Linked DNA regions of Homo sapiens. The protein of the gene in region 1 purifies or fractionates together with the protein of each later gene. This does not show direct contact. Each region holds a gene or a part of one and is shown in the gene's direction. Other genes may lie near its edges.

What was found.
Region 2: the proteins of CTNNA1 (region 1) and CDH5 purify together in Homo sapiens (affinity purification with western blotting; 5 studies listed by BioGRID and IntAct, with this or other methods). This does not show direct contact.
Region 3: the proteins of CTNNA1 (region 1) and CCT8 purify together in Homo sapiens (co-immunoprecipitation; 2 studies listed by BioGRID and IntAct, with this or other methods). This does not show direct contact.
Region 4: the proteins of CTNNA1 (region 1) and HNRNPA3 purify together in Homo sapiens (co-immunoprecipitation; 2 studies listed by BioGRID and IntAct, with this or other methods). This does not show direct contact.

Annotation. Positions count from the first base shown.
Region 1 is NC_000005.10:138,749,038-138,756,431, forward strand, and holds the start of CTNNA1 (catenin alpha-1), read left to right. Parts: upstream 1-4,387; 5' UTR 4,388-4,473; intron 4,474-4,485; exon of another isoform or gene 4,486-5,061; intron 5,062-5,656; exon of another isoform or gene 5,657-6,126; intron 6,127-7,394. UniProt on the Homo sapiens protein: Associates with the cytoplasmic domain of a variety of cadherins. The association of catenins to cadherins produces a complex which is linked to the actin filament network, and which seems to be of primary importance for cadherins cell-adhesion properties.
Region 2 is NC_000016.10:66,362,753-66,369,705, forward strand, and holds the start of CDH5 (cadherin-5 preproprotein), read left to right. Parts: upstream 1-3,938; 5' UTR 3,939-4,006; intron 4,007-5,890; exon of another isoform or gene 5,891-6,000; intron 6,001-6,953. UniProt on the Homo sapiens protein: Cadherins are calcium-dependent cell adhesion proteins. They preferentially interact with themselves in a homophilic manner in connecting cells; cadherins may thus contribute to the sorting of heterogeneous cell types.
Region 3 is NC_000021.9:29,063,639-29,070,660, reverse strand, and holds part of CCT8 (T-complex protein 1 subunit theta), read left to right. Parts: intron 1-323; coding exon 324-414; intron 415-1,158; coding exon 1,159-1,238; intron 1,239-2,955; coding exon 2,956-3,105; intron 3,106-3,589; coding exon 3,590-3,770; intron 3,771-3,883; coding exon 3,884-3,945; intron 3,946-5,555; coding exon 5,556-5,693; intron 5,694-7,022. UniProt on the Homo sapiens protein: Component of the chaperonin-containing T-complex (TRiC), a molecular chaperone complex that assists the folding of actin, tubulin and other proteins upon ATP hydrolysis.
Region 4 is NC_000002.12:177,208,093-177,215,809, forward strand, and holds the start of HNRNPA3 (heterogeneous nuclear ribonucleoprotein A3), read left to right. Parts: upstream 1-4,701; 5' UTR 4,702-4,707; coding exon 4,708-4,779; intron 4,780-7,446; coding exon 7,447-7,569; intron 7,570-7,657; coding exon 7,658-7,717. UniProt on the Homo sapiens protein: Plays a role in cytoplasmic trafficking of RNA. Binds to the cis-acting response element, A2RE. May be involved in pre-mRNA splicing.

The DNA of each region.
Region 1 (7,394 bases):
TCAGCCCTCTCCACATAGCTGGGACTACAGGTGCATGCCACCACACCCAGCTAATTTTTGTATCCTTTGTAAAGACAGGGTTTTGCCATGTTGTGCAGGCTGGTCTCCAACTCCTGAACGCAAACGATCCTCCGCCTCAGCCTCCCAGAATGCTGGAATTACCGGCATGAGCCACCGTGCCCAGTCAGTTTACCTGTTTTAGTATCTGTCTTCATCATTACCTTTAAGTGGTGTGAAAACAGGGATCAAGTCAGTCTCAGTTTTTATTCACTTCCTCAGCACACAGCAAGTGCCTGGGATATAGAGAATGCTCCAGCCTTCCCTGGTAAGCTTTTCACGATTTCTCAGGAGTAGGAAACTGACTCTCTTTAGGCACACTGCAAATCTCTCATATCTTCCTGTCACCTTACCCTTCTTTTCCCAAAACAAACCCTGTAATTTCATCTTCAGGGTCCCATGCTTAGAGAGATCCCATGCTGGCTGGGCGCAGTGGCTCACACCTGTAATCCCAGCACTTTGGGAGGCTGAGGCAGGCAGATCACAAGGTCAAGAGATTGAGACCATCCTGGCCAACATGCTGAAACCCCATCTCTACTAAAAATACAAAAATTAGTTGGGCGTGGTGGCAGGCGCCTGTAGTCCCAGCTACTTGGGAGGCTGAGGCAGGAGAATCGCTTGAACCCAGGAGGCGGAGGTTGTAGTGAACCGAGATCACACCACTGCACTCCAGCCTGGTGACAGAGCAAGACTCCGTCTCAAAAATAAATAAATAAATAAATAAAAATAAAAAAATAATAATAATAAAGAAAGAGCCCATGCTTGGTTTAATACTCTGCTGTTGCTGTCTTAAAATGGTTAATAGTTTTTGAACAAGGGGCCTTAAAATTAAGAATCTTGTCCCGAGTGAAATGATGAATATACAAAGTTATGGAGCATAATCCTTTAACTCTGTCTCTTGTTACTTTATCCAAATACTTTATTGACTGATTACTATTGTGTTAGGCTGTTCTTGCACTGCTAAAAAGAAATACCTGAGACTGTGTAATTTATAAAGAAAAAACAGGCCGGGTGCGGTGGCTTATGCCTGTATCCCAGCACTTTGGGAGGCTGAGGCAGGCGGATCACCTGAGGTCAAGAGTTCGAGACCAGCCTGGCCAACACGGTAAAACTCCGTCTCTACTGAAAATACAAAAATTAGCCGGGCGTGGTGGTGTGCACCTGTAATCCCAGCTACTTGGTAAGCTGAGGCAGGAGAATCGTTTGAATCCAGGAGGTAGAGGTTGCAGTCTGGGTGACAAAAGTGAAACTCCGTCACACACAGACACACACACACAAAAAAAAAAAAAAAAGAAAAGAAAAAAGAAAAAACGTTTAATTGGCTCATGGTTCTGCAGGCTGTATAAGCAAGGCCTGGGCATCTGCTCTACTTTCTGGAGAGGCCTCAGGGAACTTTTACTCATGGTGGAAGGTGAAGCTGGAGCAGGCACATTACATGCTGAAAGCAGGAGCAGGAGGGGGCTGAGGTGCCACATCTTTTTGTTTTTGAGACAGGGTCTCACTCCGTTGCCCAGGCTGGAGTGTAGTGGCACAATCATGGCTCACTGCAGCCTCAATCTCCCCAGGCTCAGGTGATCTTCCCACCTGAGCCCCCCAGGTAGCTGGGACTACAGGCACACACCACCATGCCTGGCTTTTTTTTTTTTTTTGAGACAGACTTTTGCTTTTGTTGCCAAGGTTGGAGTGTAATGGCGTGATCTCGGCTCCACCTCTGCCTCCCAGGTTCAAATGATTCTCCTGCCTCAGCGTCCCGAGTAGCTGGGATTACAGGCACATGCCACCATGCCCTGCTAATTTTGTACTTTTAGTAGAGATGGGGTTTCACCATGTTGCCCCAGGCTGGTCTTGAACTCCTGACCTCAGATGATCTGCCCGCTTTGGCCTCCTGAAGTGCTGGGACTATAGGCGTGAGCCACGGTGCCCAGCCTGCTTGGCTAATTTTTTTGTATTTTTTTGTAGAGATGGGTTTTTACCATGTTGCCCAGGCTGGTCTCGAACTCCTGGGCTCAAGCTATCCGCCCACCTTGGCTTCTCAAAAGTGTTGGGATTACAGGTGTGAGCCACTGTGCCTGGCCGGTGCTACACTTTAAAACGACTACATTTCATGAGAATTCCCTTAGTACCTGGAGGACAGCACCAAGCCATGAGGGATCCTCCTCTATTACCCAAATGCCTCCCACCAGCCCCACCTCCAACACTGGGGATTACATTTCAATGTGAGATTTGGGCAGGGACAAATATCCAAAATATATGAATTATGTTCTGAGTTAGCCAGGTGAAGTAGAGGGACGCCAAAGCCACTCTAGGCAGAGGAGACTACAGGAGCAAAGACCCTGCAGCCAGAAACAGGACAGGGGTAGTTGGACAAGAATGACCTTGTCAGGGTTTGCCTTTTTCTTTTTCTTTTTGAGACAGAGTCTCACTGTGTTGCCCAGGCTGGAGTGCAGTGGTGCAGTCATGGTTCACTGCAGCCTTGAACTCCCAGGCTCAAGCGATCCTCCCACCTCAGCCTCCCAAGTAGCTGGGACTACAGGTAGGTGCCACTACACCCAGCTATGTTTTTGTATTTTTTTGTAGACAAGGGTTCTATCATTTTGCCCAGGCTGGTCTCCTGAGCTCATGTGATCCACCCATCTTGGCCTCCCAAAGTGCTGGGATTACTTGTGTGAGCCACTGTGCCCATCCTCTTTTTCTTAAAGGTTGTTCTCTCCCCACTTCATGGTCCTATTGCCCTTTGTCAGCATCTGTTAACTAGCACAGGCCCACAGTACTTTGAATTACAGTGGGCACATTCACCCACAGATGTTCACTAGGCACTCCCTAGGGGATGGGCAATGTGCTGGGTGCTGCAGGAGATACAGCTCCTGCTTTCCAGAAGTTTATATTCCCTTGGGGGAGAGGGAGATGTGAGGAGTAGAGGGTAAACACGGTAAGGGCAGGTCTCCCTAGCACCCTGCTCTCTATTCAGCACAAGGCCAGCAGTGGACATCGTCGTCTTGCATTATTCAGGTTTATAGGCCAATACTGAAATCTATCTTATTCATCATCCCGTGAGCAGGGGAAACATCATTAGGGTTTTCTATACCAGGATGATAGTGAGCATGTAGTAGTTTTTGTTTTTTTGTGTTGTTTGTTTGCTTTGTAATTTTGTTTTCTTTTGTTTTTGGAGTATTCACTATGAAGATAAGAAAGGGTAAGAATAAAATGCCCCAAATGACCAGAGGAATAGAGATAGAAGTCAGGTCCCTCAAATTTGTTGGAGGAGGGGGACAAGCTGGGAGGGGGGACGTGCTGGGGGCGGGGCGGGAACAAGCCCAAAAAGGGACAGCTGCTGCGGTGCCTCTTTTGTGTTTGTAAATGTCCTCCCCGCAAGGTGGCTCTAGCCTGTAATCCCAGCACTTTGGGAGGCTGAGGAGGATTTCTTGAGCCCATGAGTTTGAGACCAGCCTGGCAACATAGTGAGACTCTGTGTCTGTAGTTCCAGCTACTCCGGAGGCTGAGGTGGGAGGGTCGGTTGTCCAGGGATTTGAGGCTGCAGTGGGCCGTGATCGCGACACTCCACCCCAGCCTGGGCGACAGAGGGAGACCCCGTCTTAAAAAAAAAAAAAAGTCCTTGATCAAGAGGGCTTCGGGTGTTTCCATCTGTGGAGTGAGGGGACGGGTTAGGTGAATTCTAGGGGCGCTTCCACCTCACATTATGAAAGGTCCTGAGAGTCAGATTCTAGTTCCACTGTGTCCCGAAGCTGTGGGGCCTTTCCTTAGCCTCCGCTTCTCCTTCTGTAAAGCCAGGTAGTTGGCCTAGATCACTTTTCCAGAAGACTGTGACTCCGGGACACCTGTGACACTCTTGAGGGGAGCGTGCCCAGTACCCCTGGTCGCGTCTCTGGGATTCCGCCGGGGTGGGGGCCCGCGCGAGGCCGCCCCTGAGCCTCACCTGTGCGCGGAGCGGTGACTCACCTGCCCTCGCGCAGCCCTCTCCGCCCGCGGGCTGTTCCAGGAGTCACCGCTCCTCCTCCCTCTCAGGGGTCACTCCCGGCCTAAGCTCCCACTAGGGGCCGGGGAGGAAGGAATTCTGAGGTGGGCGGCGGGGAGGAAGAGGTCCCTCGGGGGTCCCGGTCCGGCGTTGCCAGACTCTCTTCGCGGTGGGGGCCTTCCCTTTCCCCAAAAGCGGAGGCCGGAACGGCCGGGAGGAGCGGGCGGGGCGGCGGCGGGAGGCGCCGGGAAGAGCGAGTCGGAGGGAGGTGCCAGGAAGGGCGGGCGGGGCCGGGACAGGGGCGGGGGCCGCGGGCGGGGGGCGGGCCGGGGGCGGGGGCGTGGGGCGGCCCATTTCCTCCTCCTAGCCGGACTGGAGGGAGACAAAGCAGCGCCCGTCTGCTTCGGGCCTCTGGAATTTAGCGCTCGCCCAGCTAGCCGCAGGTAACTTCGTACCTCCCTCCTCGCGGGCGCGGTCTCTCGGGCCAGGCCGAGAGGGTCCTTGGGCCGGGCCGTCCCAAGCTGGGCCCCGCGAGCCGCGGGCGGGCGAGCGGGCGGGGCGCGGTTTCTTTGGCGACGTCGCCGGGAATTGGGCCCCGGGCGGGCGTGGGACCCGCGTCGGGCCGGCGGTCCCTTCCCCCGCAGGGCCCGAGTATGGGGCCCGGGCGGGCACGGCCGGCGCTTCCCAGCGCTCGGGAAGTCGGGGGGCCGCCTGGGCTGGGGAGGAGAAACTATAGGCCCAGCGCCGCCGCCGCGTTTCCTCTTGGAAAAGTTTTCTCGCGGTTTCCAAACTTTGTTACCGCGGCCTCGGCGCGCGCGGCAGCCCCGCGCCGGGCCCCTCGGCCGCCTTCCTTCCCTGGGGCGGCTTGTCTGGGAGCCGCTTTCCCGGGAAGTGATTGTCGTCCGGCTCCGAGGCGTTCCTGCCCCCTCCCCCTTCCCGGCCGCTGAGACTTCCCGATGGGGCGGCGGGGACGCGGGCTCGGCGAACCGGGAGGCTGGAGCCCGGGCTTCTCCCATACAGCTTCGCCGTAGGTGGGCCACACCCGTGTGGACTTTTGGCGTGACCGTCCACTTGGACTCGGGGATTACTCAGCTTTCCTGGGTTTCTTGTCGGTTGGACGCACTTAGCTTTCAGCCCTAGTTTTCAGGAGTGGCATTAGAGAGGTTTTTTTTTTTTTTTAATTGTTGTTGACTTTTAAAGGAGCGTGTGTGTGCGTGCGAGTGTGAAGCACTTGTTGGAAAAAATGTTGCCTGAATGAATGCCTGACCTTTGCTTGGCAGCAGTGGCTTCCCAGTAATGCAGGCGGCGGTTGGCCCAGTTCCAAGGTTGACTCCCTCTTACGTCCTCTTGCATCTTGGTGACATTTTTTTGGTGCGTGTGTTTTGTACAGAATTTACAATTATTTGGAAAAGAGCGAGATATGTCAAGTCTACGACTAAATTCGGGGCATTTTATATTTATGATGAAGGAAATGCTTACATCATTGTTGGGACAGGATAGGCATTTTGTGGAGCGAATATTTGTGTTTAGTCAGCAGTGATTTTTAAATACTGGACAGGTGGGTGTTACTTTAAGGAACGGAATTTATAAATCGAATTAATTAGGATGTGTTATTTTGTTTTACAGGAAGAATGAAGAATGAGTGTAGGAGTTACCTATAGTTTCTGCCTAATTATTTACCAATCTGGACTTTTGAACAAACATTTTTTTTAAAGACGGGGTCTCCGTCGCCCGGGCTGGAGCGCAGTGACACGATCATGACTCACTGCGGCTTCTGTCTCCTGGGCTCAAGTGATCCCCCCACCTCGGCTTCCGAAGTAGTTGGGACTACAGGCACGCGCCACCACATCCGTCTAATTTTTGTATTTTTGGTAGAGATGGTGTCTCGCTGTCTTGCCCAAGCTGGTCTCGAACTCCTGGGCTCAAGTGGTCCTCCTGCCTCAGCCTCCCAAAGTGTTGTGATTACAGGCCTGAGCCAGGGTGCCTGACCCCATCTGGATATTTATTCAGCGAAAGAATAATTTTTTAATCCACCTAAGAGCTCACAGTGTAATAGGGGAGACACACACCCCAGGTGTAGTACAGAGCGGACTGCAGTAAGTGCCTTAACAGTACTAATGAAACTATTGTCTGAGTCAAATCTTACCTAATAGTAACAACAAAAGAAACTTGTAGAGGCACGGAGAGGGGGCTAATAAGTTTTACTTGGGTAAGTCCAGAAAGGCTTTCAGGAGGTGGTGGCATTTGATCTGGATGAAACATGAGTCGAGTTTTTTTTAAGTGAAGGGAGAAAGTCATGAGAAGCATAAAAGGGCATAGGAGTTTGGGGAATTGTGATATCACTCTCCTGGTTTTCTTTTCCTTTTGACTCATCTCAGTTTCTTTCTTTTCCTCGCCCTCACTCTTTCCTCTCGTACCCAGGGTTCTTTCCAAAGTATCTTTGTCCTCCACACCACTGATGTGGCATCACCTTCACTCCCATCAGTGATATCTCATTTCATATAGTGACTTAGAGATGAGAGGTACCCTCCTCCAAGATGAGAATCACTGCTCTGTGCAGTCTCTTCTGTCATCAGCCTTATGTGCTAAAAGTCCAAGCCTTTGAGTGCAGGTGTGTCTCCTGACCCACATGGTCACCTGTGCATTGGGAAGCTTTTTGGGTGTCCCAGGCTTCTCAAACTCAAGGTGTCCAAAGTGGGACTCCTGTCTCTTCTGGAGACATGAACCAGATGTGGAGATCCAGGGTAACTGCCCTGCCCGGGTTTTGGGATTTCCTTCTTTTTTTTTTTTTTTTTTTTTTTTTTTTTTTTTTTGATGGAGTCTCCCTGTGTTGCCCAGGCTGGGGTTCAGTGAGGTGATCTCAGTTCACTGCAAACTCCACCTCCTGGGGATTCAAGCGATTCTCCTGTCTCAGCCTCCGGAGTAGCTGGGATTACTAAGTGCAAGCTACCACGCCCGGCTTATTTATTTATTTATTTATTTATTTATTTTGAGATAGTCTTGCTGTGTCTCCCAGGCTGGAGTGCAGTGGCATAATTGCGGCTCACTGCAACCCGTGCCTCCTGGGTTCAAGCAACTCTCCTGCCTCAACCTCAAGGAGCTGGGATTACAGGTGTGTGCCAACATGCCTGCCTAATTTTTTTGTATTTTTGATAGAGAGGGTTTCACCATGTTGGCCAGGCTGGTCTCAAACTCCTGACCTCGTGATCCACCTCGGCCTCCCAAAGTGCTGGGATTGCAGGCTTCAGCCACCGTGCCCAGCCTGATTTTTTAATTTTTAGCAGAGATGGGGTTTCATCATATTGGTGAGTCTGGTCTTTAACTCCTGACCTCAGGTGATCCACTCGCCTCAGCCTCCTAAAGT
Region 2 (6,953 bases), on another chromosome or scaffold:
CAGCTGAGGATGAGACCCCTCCCTGCTCCTCCTTCCCGCTCTTCCTCCTTCTGAGCCCCTTCTGAGACTACCTCAGGTGAGCAGCCCTATTTTATGTTCCCTGGAGGTGTGTCCGCCCCTCAGCACAGCACAGCCAGCTGGGCAAAAGGGTTTTTCCTTTGCCCGTAACTGAGCAGATGGGCTCATCAAGCCCTCTGCCATCAGACCATCACCTGCCTTAGAACACAAAACACTCGACTCTCCCCCCAGTCTCTCTGACCCGGGGAGCAGCGGGCTGACTGCCGGTTCTAATGAGTGCACAGTTTCAAGTTCACATTTGGGGAGCACTCACCTATTACCAGGTGCTGGGGATAAGCACCCAAATAGGACACAATCCCGGTGGGAAAGGAGAGGAGGGTTGTGAATGAGGTCTGTATAAAGTGCCCTGGGAGCTCAGAAGAGGGAGTGGAGTGTAGAGACAATGAGATCTGGGTGGCTCTGCCAGGGCTCTGCGCACAGGCGAGGAAGGAGAGAGAAGGAAACACACAAGGTGGAACAGCATGGGCAAAGTCCTGAGGCGTGAGGCTGCAGGGCTTCACCACGACCGCCCCTGCCAAGCTGATGGCATCGTTTTCCTGCCCCATCCTTGGGTGTCTCACGCTGTGGGGAGGAAGGAAAAGGAAGTCTTATTTGGGGAACCCCTGCTGTGTCCCGACTCAATTACAGCAGGGCAGGAAAGCTCCCTGGGTAAGGAGCTGGGCTCTGGAAACAGAAGCGTGGCTCGGAATTTCCGCCCCACCACTGACAAACTCTGATCTCAGAAAGGCTTTCACTCCCAGCCTCTGTTTTCCCATCTGTAAAATGGGCCTAACAGTAGTACCACCCCCGCAGGGTTGTCCTGAGGTTTGAATGAGGAGTCCCAAGGAGAGCTTAGTGCATTAGCAGCAGACACAAAGGCTGTGGTCCTCAAATGTAACAACACAAACACGTTTCCTGGGGAGCTACAAACACATAAGTCCTGGGATTCTATCACCAGCCATTCTGACCCCATCAGCCTGGAGTGGGGCCCAAGAAATCTGCATATTCACTCCCCCTCTCCCAGGATGGATGGCTTGAAGACCACACTTTGAGAAACAGCCACTCGATAAGGCTTGCTGGTCCTGTCATTTATTTTCATTGTCTCATTTCATCTTCCAAACGGCCTGCAAAGTCTGAACAGATAACTCATTTCACAGGTGAGGAAAGAAGCTCAGAGAGGCAAGTCGGCTGCCCAGGTCATGCAGGCAGCAACGGGTCATGCTAGGATCCAAACCTGGGTCTGCAACCCCCACACCTGTACCTCCCCAAGCAGCGCTCCCTGTCGGGTCAGGCTTCCTCCTGGCAGAGGCCAGGTGGGCGTCCCCAGGCCTTGTCGTCCCACCCGCCATCCCACCCCCACTGCCTCCACTGTTGCTTCCTCCTCTGCTACTAATCTGGTCTCACAGACCATCCCATTTCCTGCTAGCCCACCAGCCGCCTTCCTTGCTCCCAATGACACTTCCTGGCCTTGTGCCCTCCTGTTACCTCCTTTGCCTCCAGAGAGGTTGGAGCAGAGGCTGGGCAGTGCCAGAAATCAGGCATGAAATCCTCAGGGGGACCAAGGAGGCACCAGCCTCCCTCCCACAGTCTCAGCTACCTCTGCTACGGTGACCCCCAGCCCCACCCCTGGGGCCCACAGCTCATGCCTGGCTCACCATTCCTTTGTTTATGGACCACAGGAACAGTCGTTTTCAGGGCAGAGTCAACTTCCTCATGGACTGGGAGTACAAAGGGAATTGGCAGATGGTGCCAGGACAGGCCCTGTCCCCATCTGCCACAGCCCCGAGTCTGAGACCCAGCAGGAAGCAATGCACAGGCCAGTGTATCCCCATGGGCACGTAGACCATGAGGACAGGCGGGGGTGAGGGGGATGTGGACTGGAACACAGGGGACAGAGCACTGTCCTGGCTCCTCTGCGGCCAACCCCCCCTCTGGGCAGGAGAAAGCAGAGTTAATCCCATTGGAGAAGGAAGCGCTGAGCTGTTGTTTGTTCATTCCACAATCGGCTGTTGAATGTGTTGGATCCCACTCAGAATTCCGCCCCAAGGACTGTTCTCCTTCCAGCAGGTCGCTCCTCAGTCTCCAGCATCATCTGTCTTCCCGTCTGCTGGATGCTCCCTGGGGACATGAGCGTGCTGCCATAGTTAAAAAAAAAAAAAAAAAAAAAAAAAAAAAACCCTCCCACTTCTCTGCTCCCATTCACTGTAAGACTTGGGGAAGAAGCTACAGTCACACGTGACTCCACATCCCCGTCCCCCTTTCTCCCCTTTCTCTAGCCCCTCCAATCTGTCTTGTCTACCTTTTCCTGTTTAACCTGTTCTGGTCACAGTCATTGATGACCTCATCTTCCAAATCCAAAGTTAAGTCTCAGCCCTCATGCTCCCCAGGCTGACCCACTGACTACTCCCCTGCCCTCCTCCTCTGCCCTCTCCTGGCATTCCTCCTTCATCATGGGACCCTCTTCTAATGGATCCCCAAATGTCAGAGGGTCCAAGTCCTCCCTCCCTCCAAGCTCATCCATGCCCATGGCCTCAGATGCCAGCCATAAGCTGTTGGGTTCCAAACCTCGACTCCAGGCTGGACTCACCCCTGTCTCCCCCACCAGCCTGACACCTCCACCTGGGTATCTAACGAGCATCTCAAACTCAACCTGCCTGAGACAGAGGAATCACTATCCCCTCCTCCTCCAAAAATATCCTTCCATCACACTCCCCATCTTGTGCTCTGATTTACTAAACGGCCCTGGGCCCTCTCTTTCTCAGGGTCTCTGCTTGCCCAGCTATATAATAAAACAAGTTTGGGACTTCCCAACCATTCACCCATGGAAAAACAGAAGCAACTCTTCAAAGGACAGATTCCCAGGATCTGCCCTGGGAGATTCCAAATCAGTTGATCTGGGGTGAGCCCAGTCCTCTGTAGTTTTTAGAAGCTCCTCCTATGTCTCTCCTGGTCAGCAGAATCTTGGCCCCTCCCTTCCCCCCAGCCTCTTGGTTCTTCTGGGCTCTGATCCAGCCTCAGCGTCACTGTCTTCCACGCCCCTCTTTGATTCTCGTTTATGTCAAAAGCCTTGTGAGGATGAGGCTGTGATTATCCCCATTTTACAGATGAGGAAACTGTGGCTCCAGGATGACACAACTGGCCAGAGGTCACATCAGAAGCAGAGCTGGGTCACTTGACTCCACCCAATATCCCTAAATGCAAACATCCCCTACAGACCGAGGCTGGCACCTTAGAGCTGGAGTCCATGCCCGCTCTGACCAGGAGAAGCCAACCTGGTCCTCCAGAGCCAAGAGCTTCTGTCCCTTTCCCATCTCCTGAAGCCTCCCTGTCACCTTTAAAGTCCATTCCCACAAAGACATCATGGGATCACCACAGAAAATCAAGCTCTGGGGCTAGGCTGACCCCAGCTAGATTTTTGGCTCTTTTATACCCCAGCTGGGTGGACAAGCACCTTAAACCCGCTGAGCCTCAGCTTCCCGGGCTATAAAATGGGGGTGATGACACCTGCCTGTAGCATTCCAAGGAGGGTTAAATGTGATGCTGCAGCCAAGGGTCCCCACAGCCAGGCTCTTTGCAGGTGCTGGGTTCAGAGTCCCAGAGCTGAGGCCGGGAGTAGGGGTTCAAGTGGGGTGCCCCAGGCAGGGTCCAGTGCCAGCCCTCTGTGGAGACAGCCATCCGGGGCCGAGGCAGCCGCCCACCGCAGGGCCTGCCTATCTGCAGCCAGCCCAGCCCTCACAAAGGAACAATAACAGGAAACCATCCCAGGGGGAAGTGGGCCAGGGCCAGCTGGAAAACCTGAAGGGGAGGCAGCCAGGCCTCCCTCGCCAGCGGGGTGTGGCTCCCCTCCAAAGACGGTCGGCTGACAGGCTCCACAGAGCTCCACTCACGCTCAGCCCTGGACGGACAGGCAGTCCAACGGAACAGAAACATCCCTCAGCCCACAGGCACGGTGAGTGGGGGCTCCCACACTCCCCTCCACCCCAAACCCGCCACCCTGCGCCCAAGATGGGAGGGTCCTCAGCTTCCCCATCTGTAGAATGGGCATCGTCCCACTCCCATGACAGAGAGGCTCCTCGAGGGCACGCTGGGCCTCCTCGTGGCTCAGAGCAGGGTCGGGGAAGGTGCACCCAGAGGTAGTGCCAAGGGCACAAATGGGCATCTCGGGGCTGAGGGGGGCAGGGCAAGGGCTTGGCTCTCCCAGAAGTGTATTCTCCAACTCAAAAAGGCCCACTGGCCTTCATCAGTGCCAGGCTCAGAGAGGGCAGTATTCTGCCCCAGTTGCCCAGCATGCCGGGGCAGAGGACTGGCACCCAGGCCTTGGCCTCCCCTCGGTGCCTTACCCTTACTGGAGAGGATTTACCAAGGCCTGACACCAGCCTCCTCAGCCCCCTACCCATACGCCACTAAAGCTCTATGCTGGGATCTGGGGAGGGGCCCTGAAAAGGAAGCTCCGAGCCTTGGCCCCTCTCGGTCAGCCAGTGCCCCCATTTCAGGATAGGCAAGCTGAGGCTTGGCTCTGGGCACTTGAGGTCTTGCCTTTCCCTCTGGGCCTTTCCCTGCCCAAACACCATCGGGGCCCACTATGTGTCAAGGGAGCTGTAGTCTGGACAGCGGTCCACCATTCCTCCCACCAGCACCCTTTCAAAGGCTAGAGCATAAGAGCCCCAAGGCCCCCACAGCCCAGGAAGTCCCCCAGAAGCAGGAGGTCTGGGCCAAGAGCCTGGCCTGGAGACAGCTGCCCTGGGTACAGATCCCAGCTCTCCCATTTGCTCTGGGGTGACCTTGGGAAAGTTACCCAGAGTTTCCAAACCACAGTGGGGAACAAGGGATGGTGTGGGGCTCATTATTTTACCATTAACAACTCCACAAGGTAGATACATTCTTTCTTTATATCTCAGTGAAAGCAACTGAGCTTTGGAAACATATGAGCTGGTGTGGGGATTTGAACCAGGATCTCGTACTCCAAAGCCCCAGCTCTCCCCAGGTCTCAAGTGTCTCATCTGTGAAATGGGGAAACAGTGTTTCCTCAGTCAATTGAGTGAAGTGAGCTACATCCCTGGTGCTGGGAATGGCACATAACATGAGATCTTTAAGGAATAGTGGCTGGATTTACCAGCTAGCACAGAGCCGATCCTGGTTGTGAATGTGATAAAGATTTTGGCCCTTGAGGTATGGTCAAACCCCATCACGGAGGGGTCCTCAGGTGCCCAGCAGGTACGAGGAAGGGGGTGCAAGTGAGAGGACATCGCGAGCACCTCTGGGCCTCTGCTCCATGTCAGGCTCCCTCCCCAGCGTGGACGTTTCTCATGTGTGATGGGCAGATAGGATTCTGACAAGAGAGGAAGGGCATTCCCAGGGAGGCAGCTTTGAGGAGTCGAGGGTGTACCTGGAAGGCTCTTTTGCCACAGGCCACTGGAGCCAGGGCCAGAAGCCCTGGTCCATCCTCAGGTGGTGGGAAGCCTGGGACTCTCCTCTGCCTGCCCTAGAGAGCAGCAGGTATCCACCAAGGGGCCCAAGAGCTGCTGAGCCCCTGAGCAGCCCTACCAATTTCAGCTTATGGTGGTGAGGGGTAGGGGAGGTGTATACTGGCCTGGAAGGGGTTAAGCTGCCCGCCTGCAGCCTCAGCCTGAGCTATTGTGTTGCCAAACAAGGGCCGGACATGAGGGCAGGAAGCCAGCAGGGGCCACACATTTTCTGCAAAGTTGGATGATTCACTGCTGACTTGGGGACACCCAGGGGACAGAGGGGACACCATCCCAGGAAGAATCTTAGGCTCATTTTGCCCACATGGACCCATGACTGTTCCCTGTATCCTCTCTCTGCACCCCCTCAGTCACACTGAAGCAACTATGAGAATTCCCATTTGACAGATGGGACCATCGAGGCTGAGGGAAGCTGTGCAGCCAGTCCAAGGTCACACAACCAACACAAGGTAGAAGCAGGGTGAGTGCGGTTCCTTCTGACCCACAGTCCATGCCACACTCCACAGTGAAGCTCAGAGAGGGGGAAAGCAGAGCAGTCCAGGCCACAGAGGCAGGCACAGGGACAAGCCAGGAGCCCAGTGATACCAGGGGAAGGAATGTTCTAGGAGGCAGGGCCTCAGGAGCTTCACCTCTGGCTGAGGAGATACTAAAAAGTCTGTCCTGATCCAGGTTCAAGCTGGTGTTAAGTGGGTAAATCATGGAGGGCTTGCTGGAGGAAGAGTGGGAATCCCAGATGCTAGGAGGCCTTGGGCAGCCCCTCTGCAGCCTGCACCTCAGTCTTCCCATCTCTTGAGAGTAGGGGATGGTCCCTAAACTAATTCAGGGATTTCCAGGTTGTCTGCCTTGGACCATAGCAAAACAGTCAGATCCTGGCAGGTCCAGATACTAGAAGGAGGAGGAAGTGGGACCCAGGGGCAGGCCGGGCTGGTGGTGAATGAGATTTCCTTCTGCAGAGGAACAGAAAGAGTAGGAGGTGGGCCCAGAGTAGAGCCAGGAAATGAGGTCAAGCGTAAGTTGGCCAGTCAAAGCCACACCCACCAGGCTGGAGAGGGCGGGTAGATAGGAGTCAAGACACCTGCACCCTTACTGAGCACCTACTGTGTGCCAGGCTTTGCACCCATGATCTCATTTAATCCTCCTGCCCAGGGAGGCAGCTATTGTTGCCTCCATTACAGATAAGGAAGCTGAGGCTCAGCAAGCAAGAGATGAACCCAAGGTCACACAGCTCCCGAGCAGCTGGGCAGGTTCAAATAGGCAGGTGCAAGGGCCTCATTCTGTTCCCCGCACTGCCCTGACAGTCCCAGACAAAGTCAGGAAGCCCAGAGGAGTCTGGAAGCCTCCTTAGCATGGGTGTTCTCTCCTTGAAGTTTGGAGCTGTCCCTTTAGAAGGCAAGGGGATAGACTAGATGACCC
Region 3 (7,022 bases), on another chromosome or scaffold:
CTAGAGAGGAAATGTATGCATCATTTATGAATATCAAATGCTGTGTTTTACATTAAAAAATCTTGTTTGATTGTCTCAACAATCCTATGAGTTAGGTACTATTATAATTACTTCATTTTATAATGAAGAAATGTTAAGAAAATTGCCCAAATTTAAAAAGAGCCAGAAAGCTAAGATTTGCAACCAGCCCTCTTGTGCCAAATACCTAAGCTATGCTCCCTCTTTATTAGAGGCAAGATATAAGCAAAGATATCTTGTATTTGAAATTTTTGTTTCACTGTCCTGTCTAATTAGCGGGGTTTTTTGTTTGTTTTTTTTAACAGCACTTTTCAGGATTAGAAGAGGCTGTGTATAGAAACATACAAGCTTGCAAGGAGCTTGCCCAAACCACTCGTACAGCATATGGACCAAATGGTAATTTCTAAATTAATATTTGTAAAGATACAGTAGTAGAATATTGTGTACTACGTCTTCTTTCAGACTTGTTCTGAGGATGTTATGGTATGACTTCGGAAGTTAATTTGATAGCTCAATGATAGTTCATTTCCAATTTTTAGTTATTTCTAATTTTCAATCAACTCACATCTCTTTAGAAAAATGGGGGTCAATATATTACTTTTTATCCTGTTGAGAGGATAGAAAAATTATAACACTTTGACTAGTAAGATAGTACCTAATGTTCATTCTGACAAACACTAAATATAAAAGTGACATAGTTTAAGGAAGAAAATTCTCTCCTTCCTCTTGCCTTCTACCACCAATTAAATTTAAATGATACAGTTTCATGGAATAAACATACAACTAAATATACTAAGTAGATTATTTTGGCCTTTTTACATGTTAATTTCTGTTGAGCACTTGCTGCATGACAGTCATGTTGCAAACAGAAGATAGAAATTGGCAAAAATGTGAGATTTGGCATCTTACGTAGTAAATATTGTAGGACATTAGAAAGGGAAGAAAGAATATGGGTCTGCAGTCAGAGAATGCCCATGGGGCTATAAGATAAACTTGAAGAATAGATAGTATGTGTTTTCTTGCAAAGCTCTTTTTTTAATATACAAATTTATAATTTCTTAACTAGATTTTCCTGGGTATTTGGGGAAGGATTTGATTAATAATGGCTTTCTTTTTCTTTTTTTAACTGTTACTTTTGAGGAATGAACAAAATGGTTATCAACCACTTGGAGAAGTTGTTTGTGACAAACGATGCAGCAACTATTTTAAGAGAACTAGAAGTAAGTTGTTTCTTTAAAAAGTCAAGAAATATTTTGGTGACATCAAAATTAAGTAGATTTTAACTAGAAGAAATCTCTTATTTCAGATTGGATAAGGGACTATTTTTCCAGCTTGAAAATTTATTGTACAGATTGTTCTAATTATAAAGAGTCCTCTTTAGATTGAATGTTTTAGCCACTGAAATCTTAAAAATCTCTCAAGTTATTAATTTATGGAGGGATTGGTTGTGATACATTGCTAATTACGATATGAAATTGATTACCATTGTCTTCATTCTATAGGGTGACTCTGAAGTGAATTATTCCACAGTGCAAAAACGTATACATATAACAGTGGTTTTTAAAAAGATCCAACCATTTGGTTTTGTGAAAATAAAAACAATCAGTTGATGGCATTTTACTTTGTTCAGCTTTAGTTTTACTATTAGAATCTATAAAATAGATACTGCCTGCCAGCAGGGTTATAAGGAAGGTCTGGCACCTGAACAGGCAGAGAGAGCCATTCCTCATTCCCGCCTTGTAATTAAAGGATAACATATTCAACCTCAGGGAATTTTCCTGAAGCTTAGCCCTTGAAAGCACTAGAACTTAATCTTTTGTTTTAAATGAAACGATAGAAGAATCAACATTTTTCTAACCTCTTAAATAATATATTTTTGGTTGGACGCGGTGGCTCACGCCTGTAATCCCACCACTTTGGGAGGTCAAGGCAGGCGGATCACCTAAGGTCAGGAGTTTGAGACTAGCCTGGCCAACATGGTGAAACCCCATCTCTACTAAAAATACAGAAACAAAATCAGCCGGGCGTGGTGGCACACACCTGTAGTTCCAGCTACTCAGTAGGCTAGGGCAGGAGAATTGCTTGAACCTGGGAGGCGGAGGTTGCAATGAGCCAAGATCGCGCCACTGCACTCCAGCCTGGGCGACAGAGCAAGACTCCATCTCAAAAAAGAAAAAAAAATACATATTATATATATAAATTCTTAAAGAACTTAAGTTAAAAGTTAAATTTTAACTCCACAAAACACTTGTACAAGGGTTTGTCACTGTGAATGTTAATGTTGCACACTGATGATCTCAGGAGTTATTAAAGTACAGTGGTGATACCGTCAAAATAATAAAATCACAGGGCTGACTTTTTATAGTTTTCTTGTTGCTCTCAGTTCTTACTCCTTGGCTTGTTTCTGTAAAGGTATCTAAAATTAAATCCTAAGAATAAAATCCACATAAAATTATGTTATATTTGAAGAAAAGTTTTATACTCCCCCTTTTCTTTAAATCACAAATGATAACCCTTACAACAAGAATATATAGTAAAATAGATATTGAGAGTCATGACCAAGTTAAGTGGTATCTATTTTAGTTCTCCTGAAGGCTTTTAAAAAATATCTAGGTTTGGTGGTTGTAATTACTTTGTTTTTTAATTTAGTGAAATATGATATGGTGAAACATATGTGTGGCACTGTATGTGCAGGCCACCAAAAGAGGATGCACTTTGAAATTCTTATTTATAGTGATACATTTGTGCTGATCGGCATAAAGGGACTTGGATTTTTTCTTGTGACCACACTATAAGTAGCGTATAGCAGTGTAGCAGTGTGATCAGATGGAGTTACCTAATCTACAAGAAAATTGAGTCTATTTAAGAAATGGAAATGAACAATTTTATGTTGCTTTAAGGATCAGATGTTTAACTTGATATTACCTTTTCTACTAGGTACAGCATCCTGCTGCAAAAATGATTGTAATGGCTTCTCATATGCAAGAGCAAGAAGTTGGAGATGGCACAAACTTTGTTCTGGTATTTGCTGGAGCTCTCCTGGAATTAGCTGAAGAACTTCTGAGGATTGGCCTGTCAGTTTCAGAGGCAAGTGTTCATTTATAATTTACTCCTACTAAATTTTTGCTTACATATACACCTGCTTAAAACATAAACTAAAATCATTATTATAGTAGTAGCTAACATGCACTGAGCAGTTTGCTCTGTACCAGCCATTATAGTACATATGCTTCACATGCTGTATCATTTTAGTCTCACAAAAACCCTATTAGTGAGGCCTTATAATCCCATTTTATCTATTTTTTTTCCCACTTTATTTTAGATGAGAAAAGAGACTAAAATTAGAAAAATCTTGCCCAAGATCTCATAGCTAGTGAGTTAGGTAGAGTTAAGATTCAAATTTGGGCTGTCATCTAAGCCTCCATTCATAACTAGTAGAGTCTACTATATGTTTTATTCCGAAGTATATTCTTTGTCATTTTGTATCAAAAATAAACATCCATATGCATTGGGTTACCAAAATAAGCTACTTTAAGTCATGTCAGAATAGGAAATGTTGTTTATGTTTTAGGTCATAGAAGGTTATGAAATAGCCTGCAGAAAAGCTCATGAGATTCTTCCTAATTTGGTATGTTGTTCTGCAAAAAACCTTCGAGATATTGATGAAGTCTCATCTCTACTTCGTACCTCCATAATGAGTAAACAATATGGTAATGAAGTATTTCTGGCCAAGCTTATTGCTCAGGCATGCGGTAAGTAAATATCAGTAAATGAAAAGATCCAAAATAAAAATACCTTTAACATGACTAGATACTTTCTCTGTTGTCCCAAAATAATCTTTTGATATGTCTCATTTTCTTAACAGTATCTATTTTTCCTGATTCCGGCCATTTCAATGTTGATAACATCAGAGTTTGTAAAATTCTGGTAAGTAGAAAATGCATTAATGCTACATATCTAGGTCAGTTTTTTTGTGTGCTTTTTTTGTTTTTTTGTGCAAAAAAAAAAAAATGTGTTCATCTAAACCTAAATGTTACTTCATGATTTGAACACTTAGGACTTTTTTTGAGGCATTATTTTTATTTATGTACTTATTTATTTTTGAGACGGAGTCTCGCTCTTGTTGCCCAGGTTGGAGTGCAATGACATGACCTCGGCTCACCGCAACCTCCGCCTCCCGGTTCAAGTGATTCTCCAGTCCCAGCCTCCCGAGTAGCTGGGATTACAGGCATGCGCCACCACACCCGGCTAATTTTGTATTTTTAGTAGAGATGGGGTTTCTCCGTGTTGGTCAGGCTGGTCTCGAACTCCCGACCTCAGGTGATCCACCTGCCTTGGCCTCCCAAAGTGCTGGGATTAACAGGCGTGAACCACCGTGCCTGGCCTTTGAGGCATTATTTTGTAACATTTTGATGTTGCTAAGTTGTAATAATACTACTACCTATTTAAGTTTAAAAGGATATTGACATATTATCTCCTTATAAAGTCATTTTCTGTGATGTCTTGTGGGTTTAAGAATAATGTATAAACAAAATACTAAATTTTTTTTTTTTTTTTTTTTGAGATGGAGTCTGGCTCTGTTGCCCAGGTTGGAGTGCAGTGCCTCGACCTCGGCTCACTGCAACCTCCACCTCCCAGGTTCAAGTGGTTTTCCTGCCTCAACCTCCCAAGTAGCTGGATTACAGGTGCATGCCACCATGTCCAGCTAATTTTTGTATTTTTTTAGTAGAGGCAGGGTTTCACCATGTTGGCCAGGCTGGTCTCGAACTCCTGACCTCATGATCTGCCCACCTTGGCCTCCCAAAGTGCTGAGATTACAGGTGTGAGCCACCGCGCCCAGCGCAAAATACTAATTTTTTTGTGTTCTTCATAATACTCTGAATTATAATAAGCTTATAAGACAGTTTTGAGTGGGGTGGAAATCGTCCTATTCCTCTTCAATAATAGAATTCACACTTTAATGTTAGTATTGAAATATTAAAGTATATTTTTGATAAAATGTGCTTGATAGAGTAAAACCTATCAGTGGAATGGTTTTGGTTTTGCACATTGGCATTCTGATTGTTAATGTGAATTTAGCATAACATAAGTACATGTGCTTTCCCTGAAGATACTCACGTGTTCTATGTTTGCTGTCTCCCTCCACGTACTGCCAGCTTTTCCCATTAAATGCAACCTTGTGAGAACAGAATCTTTGCTTTGTTCTGTGTTGTATTTGCAGTACTGACAGCTGTGGCTGGTATATTGGCACCAAGTACTAGGTAACTGAATGGCTAAGACCAGTTCTCTGCCTTTGGTTCTTCCCAGTACATGGAAGGACCTCCCCTCCCTAAAAGTAGCTCATTCCCTCAGTGATTTCTGCCTCGAGCAGAAGGGTGTGCTGTATGTCCACCACTCCACCCCTTATCCCAGGAGTCACTGCCTTGGTTTATGACTTTATTTTAGAAAGGGATATTTTTGGTATATGGAGAATCAACAGTTTGACCGTAATGTTATTTTCAGGAGATTGCTGATGAGTTTGGTATTCAATTCCTTAGGGCTCTGGTATCAGTTCCTCTTCAGTATTGCATGGCATGGTTTTTAAGAAGGAAACCGAAGGTGATGTAACATCTGTCAAAGATGCAAAAATAGCAGTGTACTCTTGTCCTTTTGATGGCATGATAACAGAAACTAAGGTATGTAGACTTCAAACCTTAAAAGTAATAATTGGGGTTGCACTTTCAGATTGTTTGAGTTAGCTCTTAAACCAGTAAGTACTTCTTAAAAAACTGAACATTGCAGGATCTTACCTATTTTTTTATGCCAGATTTATAGTCTTCAAATATCTAATTCAACTACTGAACATTAAACTGGAAATATAAAGATGGTGGCCGTATTATTTATAATCTGACACACAGCCCTTCTAGTAGAGCTTATACATTCAGCAAGTGAAAGAATATGAGAATGTGAGTATTTTGTGTGCTCTTCACGAAAATAAAGTTGACATTCTGTAGCATCCTAAAACAAGATAAGCTAATGTAATTTGAAAATGGTAAGTATGTTTCTAAAAATACATGTTAGAAAGTTTGAAGTTTGTGTTTATAGTCAATAGTGGCTGACTTCATCTCTAGAATTCTTGAAATCCAAGTTGTTGATAGTTTTAAAATTTTGTAGCATGAGGGGGGTCTGGTCATTTGGTCCATATTTTATTTTATTGTATTTTATTCTTTTTTTTTTTTTTTTTTTTTTTTTTTAGAGTCTTGCTTTGTCACCCAGGCTTGAGTCCAGTGGTACAATCTTGGCTCCCTGCAACCTCCGCCTCCTGGGTTCAAGTGATCTCTGGCTAATTTTTGTATTTTTAATAGAGACAAAGTTTCACCATGTTGGCCAGACTGGTCTCCAACTCCTGACTGCAAGTGATCCACCCGCCTTGGCCTCCCAGAGTGCTAGGATTACAGGCATGAGCCACCGCGCCCGGCCTAGTCCACATTTTAGAAAAAGTTTGAGAACCACAATGTTGTATTGGGAACACTAGTTAGCCTTTGTCAAAAGACAAACACCAGGACACCTACCTACCTGACATATTTAAAATAAAAGCACTTCTCGGCCGGGCACGGTATCTCACGCCTGTAATCCCAGCATAGGCCAAGGCAGGCAAATCACGAGGTCAGGAGTTCAAGACCAGCCTGGCCAACATGGTGAAACCCCGTCTCTACTAAAAATGCAAAAATTAGCTGGGCGTGGTGGCGCTTGCCTGTAATCCCAGCTACTTGGGAGGCTGAGGCAGGAGAATCGCTTGAACCAGGGAGTCAGAGGTTGCGGTGAGCCGAGATCCTGCCTGCACTCCAGCATGGTGACAGAGTGAGACTCTGTCTCAAAATAAATAAATAGATAAAAGTACTTTTCCACCTAAGTACTTATCAAAAGCAGATGCATCTGTTTTGACAGGGGGTTCTAGAAGCAAGCTGAGTTTCTATTTCACACATACAGTATTCTGCTGCTTCATAATATATGCACATATATCT
Region 4 (7,717 bases), on another chromosome or scaffold:
GAAAAGGTTGTTACCTTCAAGAATATTAAAATGTAAATACAGTGATTATATGACATTCTAATTCAGCACTTTACTTGCAGGGCCTATATAATTTTAGTCAATGTATTCAACTTTCCTACATCCCAGATTAGGGAGAATTTACCCTCCTAAGTTTATTAAGGGAATGAAATCAGGAACATAATGTACGTGGCCCATTACAAGGTATACAGTAGTATTCAATAATGTGAGTGACTATGATGAATTTCCAGCACCTAGCATTGCCTGGCACATAGTAAGAGTTTGGTAAATAACTTTGTTAAGTGGAAGAGAAAGGAAATTTCAAATCAATCTGGATAGTTAGACATACATTGGTAAAAATAAAACAAATATGTTTGTTTCATATATATAAGCATTGATTAGGCCAACAAGAAAATGTGAGAGGATATGTAATAAGTTGTTGATCATGGTCAAATCTATGTAATAGGATTTTGTGGGGAAAGACTTTTTGTGTGTGTTTTACTTTATAAACTCCTTATTTAAAAATCAAGATTTTAGAAAATAAAGCTTTGGTATATTCTGAATATAATGGCACATAACAAAGCTTATAGTTTATTACAATTCCTCCCTTTTAAGGGTTACCTTCTTCCCTCATGCCTGTAATCCCAGCACTTTGGGAGGCCGAGGCGGGTGGATCACAAGGTCAAGAGATGGAGACCATCCTGGCTGACGTGGTGAAACCCCGTCTCTACTAAAAATACAAAAAATTAGCCAGGTGTGGTGGTGAGCGCCTGTAGTCCCAGCTACTTGAGAGGCTAAGGCAGGAGAATCACTTGAACCCGGGAGGCGGAGGTTGCAGTGAGCCGAGATTGTGCCACTGCACTCCAGCCTGGTGACAGAGCGAGACTCTGTCTCAAAAACAAACAAAATGAGTTACCTTCTTCCAGCCAGGCACAGTGGCTCACGCCTATAATCCCAGCACCTTGGGAGGCCAAGGCGGGCGGATCTCTTAAGATCAGGAATTCCAGACTAACCCAGCCAACATGGTGAAACCCTGTCTCCACTAAAAATACAAAAATTAGCCAGGCGTGGTGATGCACGCCTGTAGTCCTTACTACTTGAGAGGCTAAGGCAGGAGAATAGCTTGAACTCAGGAGGCAGGGGTTGCAGTGAGCAGAGATCACGCCACTGCACTCCAGCGTGGGCGACAGAGCAAGAGACTCTGTCTCAAAACAAAAACAAAAACAAAATTAGCCGGGCATGGTAGCATGGGCCTGTAATCCCAGCTACTTGGGTGGCTGAGGCATGAGAATTGTTTGAACCCAGGAGTGGTAGGTTGCAGTGAGCCGAGATCATGCCACTGCACTCTAGCCCGGGTGACAGAGTGAGACTCTGTCTCAAGAAAAAAAAAGTCTAGATCAGAAACTGCATAAAGCCACTTCAACCATAAAACCTAATATCAAAATGTATTCACAGGAACAAGTTCAAGTTGATCACTAAAAAACACGGAAAATTTTAATTTGAAAGTTTTATGCAAATTCAATATTTAATATCATTCCTAATACTTTGTATTTTATCAAAATCAGATGCTTAAAACATTACCACCACTTAGATGCCTCCAAATATCTTCTAGTTTACCCTACTATGCTGTACAAAAATGATTATTTTCTGTATGTCATGATATAAAGGAGAGGGCCTGATATAGATTATAAAGTTTGTCTGCCACCCATCTCACCCTAGGACCCTCATTCCCTCCTCCCATCCCATACACTCCCTTTCTCATATCAAAGAGTCAGGGCTGCAAGTGCAGACCATAGCCAAGGTTCAAGTCTGTGCCCTACAGGGTCAAGGACTGGAAAAGTGGTTTTTGTACCTGAGACATAACTGGACCTTAAGTTTATTTATTTATTTATTTTTTGAGATGGAGTCTCGCTCTGTCACCCAGGCTGGAGTGCAATGGCACGATCTCAGCTCACTGCAACCTCCGCTTCCCAGGTTCAAGCGATTCTCCAGCCTCAGCCTCCTGAGTAGCTGGGACTACAGGCACCCACCACCACACCCGACCAATTTTGTATTTTGAGTAGAGACAGGGTTTCACCATGTTGGCCAGGCTGGTCTCGAACTCTTGACCTCAGGTGATCCGCCCGCCTTGGCCGTCCAAAGTACTGGGATTACAGGCTTGAACCACTGCGCCCAGCCAGCAGCGTGATCTCGGCTCACTGCAAGCTCCGCCTCCCGGGTTCACGCCATTCTCCTGCTTCAGCCTTCCCAGCAGCTGGGACTACAGGCGCCCGCCATCACGCCCGGCTAATTTTTTTTTTTTTTTGTATTCTTAGTAGAGACGGGGTTTCACCATGTTAGCCAGGATGGTCTCGATCTCCTGACCTCGTGATCCGCCCGCCTCGGCCTCCCAAAGTGCTGGGATTACAGGCGTGAGCCACCGCGCCCGGCCTTTTTTTTTTTTTTTTTTTTTTTTGAGGCGGAATCTCGCTCTGTCACCCAGACTGGAGTGCAGTGGGGCAATTTCAGCTCACTGCAACCTCCGCCTCTTGAGTTCAAGTGATTCTCGTGCCACAGCCTCCCAAGCAGCTGGGATTACTGACGTGTGCCTCCATGCCCGGCTAATTTTTGTATTTTTTTTAAAAGTAGAGACAGGGTTTAACCGTGTTGGTCAAGCTGGTCTCAAACTCTCCACCTCAGGTGACCTGCCTACCTCGGCCTCCCAAAGGCCTGGGATTACAGGTGTGAGCCATGGCGCCCGGCCAGAGCTTGTTTAGACAAAAGCATAAAAAATAACTAATGTCTAAAAACAGCATACAGTCAGGATGAACAACAAATCTGGACCAATACAATAGGGAGGACAAAAAGATGTGAATAAATGGGCTGACATTTCATGTTCCTGGAGAGAACTTAGTATCCCATCCCACATTGTTTCGCGATTTAACATTAACATTTATACAAAAGTTACTAATTAGAACAAAAGTTATTGATTAGAATTAACTTATTAGAAAAACCTGGACAAACATACCCTAAAGTGCAGCCAGGTGATCACTCTTCTTGATCACCTATGTAATGTCTCATAGAGTACTCTGGTGTGAATAGCAATTTCCAAAGGTCTTTCACTTTGCATTTTTCTTTGTATCCAGAATCGATAAAGTTACCAGGACTATTTCACAGTAATTAGACTTACAAAATCTTAACACTAAATAGACGCTAAGGCTATACATTCTTCCAATGTCTCAAGTCTATTGCTGGCCATCAGGAGCACCTGGATACGTAGAACATAAGAAAGTTTGCGAAAAAGGAATCAAAGCAACAGGAGGAGTCTGGTTTGAACGGTTATTTCAACCAAATTACATTAAGGACTGCTAACTGTTTTCTGCCCCACAAAAATACCCTTTGTAAATGTTTCCAAACTATAACACAGGTCCTCCTGGAGCAACGGCTAGATAAATTAACAAACTTTTAGACTTTACGCTCCCCTTTTCCAAACTCCAAGTCGACCACTCCCCATTTGTTAACAGAAACTTACTATAACTGATTAGATTTCTAACCTTTCCTAGGGAGAGCCAGTTCAATTCTAAAAGGGTTGGTCACATGGGTTGCTAAATTAAAATATAAAGCATTTCCTAACAGGGAAGGGAGGCTGGTCAATTGTGGTTATTTTTATCAGTAACTTTAAATATGGATCCATAGATTATCAATTTATGGCTGTCGTGGGTGTTAGAAGATGACCTAATCCCATCCCCATTTTCATTTAAAAAACTGAAACTAAAGCTCTGTAAAATCAAATGATTTAAAATCATCTGACTAGGCCGAGAAAGGATTAGCTCTCTAGAGCATTACGGTAACAATCATTCGCAAACAGGTAGCATTATCTGGCGACCCTGCTTTTCTGGAAATCTTGTCAATTATTCAGTTCCTTAAATTCCGTCAGCTACAACAGATGCATCAGCTCTTTCCACACTAACTTGAAAGAAGCACATTAGAAAATAGTCCTGACTTGTTTCTTGAGATCAGTAACTAATGAACTGACCTCCACCAGTCCTGCCTCAGGTCGTTAATGGTAAAAATTCTGTATGTCAGCCGCGTTTTGAGGCCTGTCCAAGGTGCTTGTGAGTCCCACATGTTGGAGTCGCAGGGCTTTTCAGTACATGCCCTCAGGCAGGCGGCGCAGTCACAGACACTGGTCCCCGGCATTTGGAAACAGGAAAGATGGTCCGAGGGGCCGAGGAGTTTTTCTTGCAACCTTTAAATTACAAGCAAGAAAAACGTGGGTTTTATTTCGGGCACAGGAATAGAATGAATTCTGAAATGGAGAACTAGAGGCCTGCGTGGGGAATGAGGGACAAGCGCGAGAAGAAAGGGAAAGGCCTTTCTCTCTGGTGACGCGCGATCACAAGGCGTTCCCTCTACGTGGACGCTCACCATTGGCGGAGACCGCACTGACGTCCCGGAACTCGCCCTGACGCGAACGGCGGCAAAGGCCCTCTTCCCCTGAAAGCTGGCGAGGCGCGCGCGCTCCCGCGGCACGCCGCGCCTCCGCCCTCCGCCCGCCAACCCGCTGGTCCAGTCCCTCTTCGCGCCCGCTTGGCTCCGCCCCCTTCCCAATTCGCTCCTCCCCCAACAGACTGGCGGCGCGCGGAAAACGCGTCACGTGACGACTGGCCCCGCCTCTTCCTCTCGGTCCCATATTGAACTCGAGTTGGAAGAGGCGAGTCCGGTCTCAAAATGGAGGTAAAACCGCCGCCCGGTCGCCCCCAGCCCGACTCCGGCCGTCGCCGTCGCCGCCGGGGGGAGGAGGTATTAGGGGGAGAGCGGGGGGTTGGTGGGGAATGGCCGGCGTTGGGGGCCTGGTTCGGTGGGAGCGGGGAGGCCGGGTGGACCGGGTCGGCCGTCCCGCGCTCTTGCGTTGAGACAGGCTGTGGGAGGGGGAGGGGAGCGAGAGTTGGAGACCTCCTTGGGGCCCCTCGCCCGCCTCGCCTTCACCTTCGGCTGCACAGGCGGCCCCTTGGAGGCGCGGCTTGGTCGGGGAGGCCTCGGGAGGGAAGCCGGCCTGCCGGCTGCGCGGCCTCCGAAGCGAGGCCGAGGGCGGCATGGCGGGCCCCGGCGGGAGCGGTTGGGAGGAGGTGGTGGGGGAGGGGAGGGGACGAGCAGGCACATCCGGGCGAGCGAGCAAGCGGGCGGCGGCCACATTGACATTGATCCGCCGCCGCGTTACGAAATGGCGCATTGGCCCGCAATGGCCGCCGCCTCGCTCTGCCGCCGGGAAAGCGAGCCTGGGATTGGAGGGAAGAGGGCGGAGGCGGCCCGGCAGAAAAAGCCGCAAATGGCCTCGAAGCATGGGGAGGTAGTGCTTTCGCTGAAGTTCTGCCGACGCTTTTCTAGGCCTTTTACGGGTCCTCTCCGCGAGAAGTCGATAATTGGCCTTTTCTTTTTTTCGCAGCATCCTGTTGGAAATACGAGATTGTTAAAAACTTTGCTGCTTTAAAATACTTCCTGATATATTTTTGCTAAAGTACTTACATTACACTTCTTAAACCGCCATGTGGGCGAAGGACTTAATTTTTGAGAATTTGAGTGTAGATGTGAAAAACAACCCAGCCAGCTCCTTCCCGGCTCCGGCCGCTGAGGAGGGTGGGTGGAGAAGAATTTGAGTATAGTATGTTAAGGAAGAATTTAGAAATGTTTTTTATCTTCATGTTTTCCCATTCTTTGAGTCGGCTCTGGTTGTAGTTTCCTGGAATTTTATTTAGAGGACTGCAACCAGAGTTGAAATTTTCACGTTTTTGCAGTACATTTAATGTGGATCCTAAATATTTTTGTCGATTTCGTTATTGTCAATCGAATACATTTATCCAAGACTTGAAAAGATGAGATTACATGAATTAATGCTTTAGGCTATTAACGTTTTTTTCTAGCATGTGACAATCTCTTCACATTAAACGGTTTAACATCTCTACCTCTAGGAGACACAGGAAGACATTAGAATGTAAATGTGAGCCCCTTATTTAAGAACTTCGGGTGAAGGAAACCTTAATGCATGCATTAAATGACAGTTCATGCAATGTGTTAAAAAGTCTTGACTAAAGTATAAAACAATTTCAAGACATCTTAATTCTTAAAAATCTCAATTTTTGTTTTGCTGTACTCCGTTCTTATAGTCAGACAATACATACCATTCCTAATGTAAGTCCAACTTGCCAGTTAGTTGTGACTCTTAAAATTGAGTTGTAAATTGCAGATTTTTGCAGCATATAACAAACATGGGTTATAGAAAGCTATTTGATCGGCTTTTTTTTTTCCTCAGTTTTTTTGGGAAATGCTGGTTTGGCTTAGGAATGCCTGTTTTAAATTAATTTGCTTGAAAGCAGTGAGTTTCTGTAAGTTTGACATTCAGAACTTTTAGATTGTTCTTCATCACAGTTTTGAGTTTAAATGTATGGGCCGGGCGCTGTGGCTCACGCCTGTAATTCTAGCACTTTGGGAGGCCGAGGCGGGCGGATCACGAGGTCAGGAGATCGAGACCATTCTGGCTAACACGGTGAAACCCCGTCTCTACTAAAAATACAAAAAGTTAGCTGGGCGCGGTGGCGGGCGCCCGTAGTCCCAGCTACTCGGGAGGCTGAGGCAGGAAAATGGCGTGAACCCGGGAGGCGGAGGTTGCAGTGAGCCGAGATCGCGCCACTGCACTCTAGCCTGGGCGACAGAGCGAGACTCAGTCTCAAAAACAAAACAAACAAAAAAATTAAATGCATGTTGGGTTGTAGACTGAGAAGAGTTGAAATGGGATAGATGCAACACTGCTTCTCCAACAGTTTAGTGCCTTAGAAAATGACTTACTAGCAACTTCTAAAGTAAAGGTTCTCAGACAGTTGTAGCTTTTAAAAAATGAAGCGATTTTTTGATTCTGGAATTGTCTTGGATTTCAATTTAGTTGAAGTGATGCTGGCATTTGAAAGGCTGGTTATAGGTTTCCTTGACATAAGTTAGCCCCTTTAACAGTTGAAGTCTTATTTCTGGTCAAAGTTTTTGTTGTTTTGTTTTTTTGAGACGGAGTTTTCGCTCCTATGGCCCAGGCTGGAGTGTAATGACATGATCTTGGCTCACCGCAACCTCCGCCTCCTGGGTTTAAGCGATTTTCCTTTCTCGAGTAGCTGGGATTACAGACGCCCGCCACCACGCCCAGCTAATTTTTGTGTTTTTAGTAGAGATGGGGTTTCGCCGTGTTGGCCAGGCTGGTCTCGAACTCCTGACCTCAGGTAATCCATCTGCCTCGGCCTCCCAAAGTGTTGGGATTACAGGCATGAGACATCGCGCCGGTGTCTGGTCAAAGTTTTAACTGGACAAAGTGTTAACTGTCACAGGAATTTGATGTTGATTTTATTACTTACCGTACATTAAAGGCTCTTCGTGCATCTTAATTCATCTACTGTAAGGTAACTTAAGAGTATTGGTTCTTTCTCTCAGGGCCATGATCCAAAGGAACCAGAGCAGTTGAGAAAACTGTTTATTGGTGGTCTGAGCTTTGAAACTACAGATGATAGTTTACGAGAACATTTTGAGAAATGGGGCACACTCACAGATTGTGTGGTAAGTTACTAAGAGAACAGAAGGGTTCTAAGGGGTGTAGAGAACCGGTGGAGGTGTTTTCAACGTTATAAAACTTTTTATTTTGTAGGTAATGAGAGACCCCCAAACAAAACGTTCCAGGGGCTTTGGTTTTGTGACTTATTCTTGT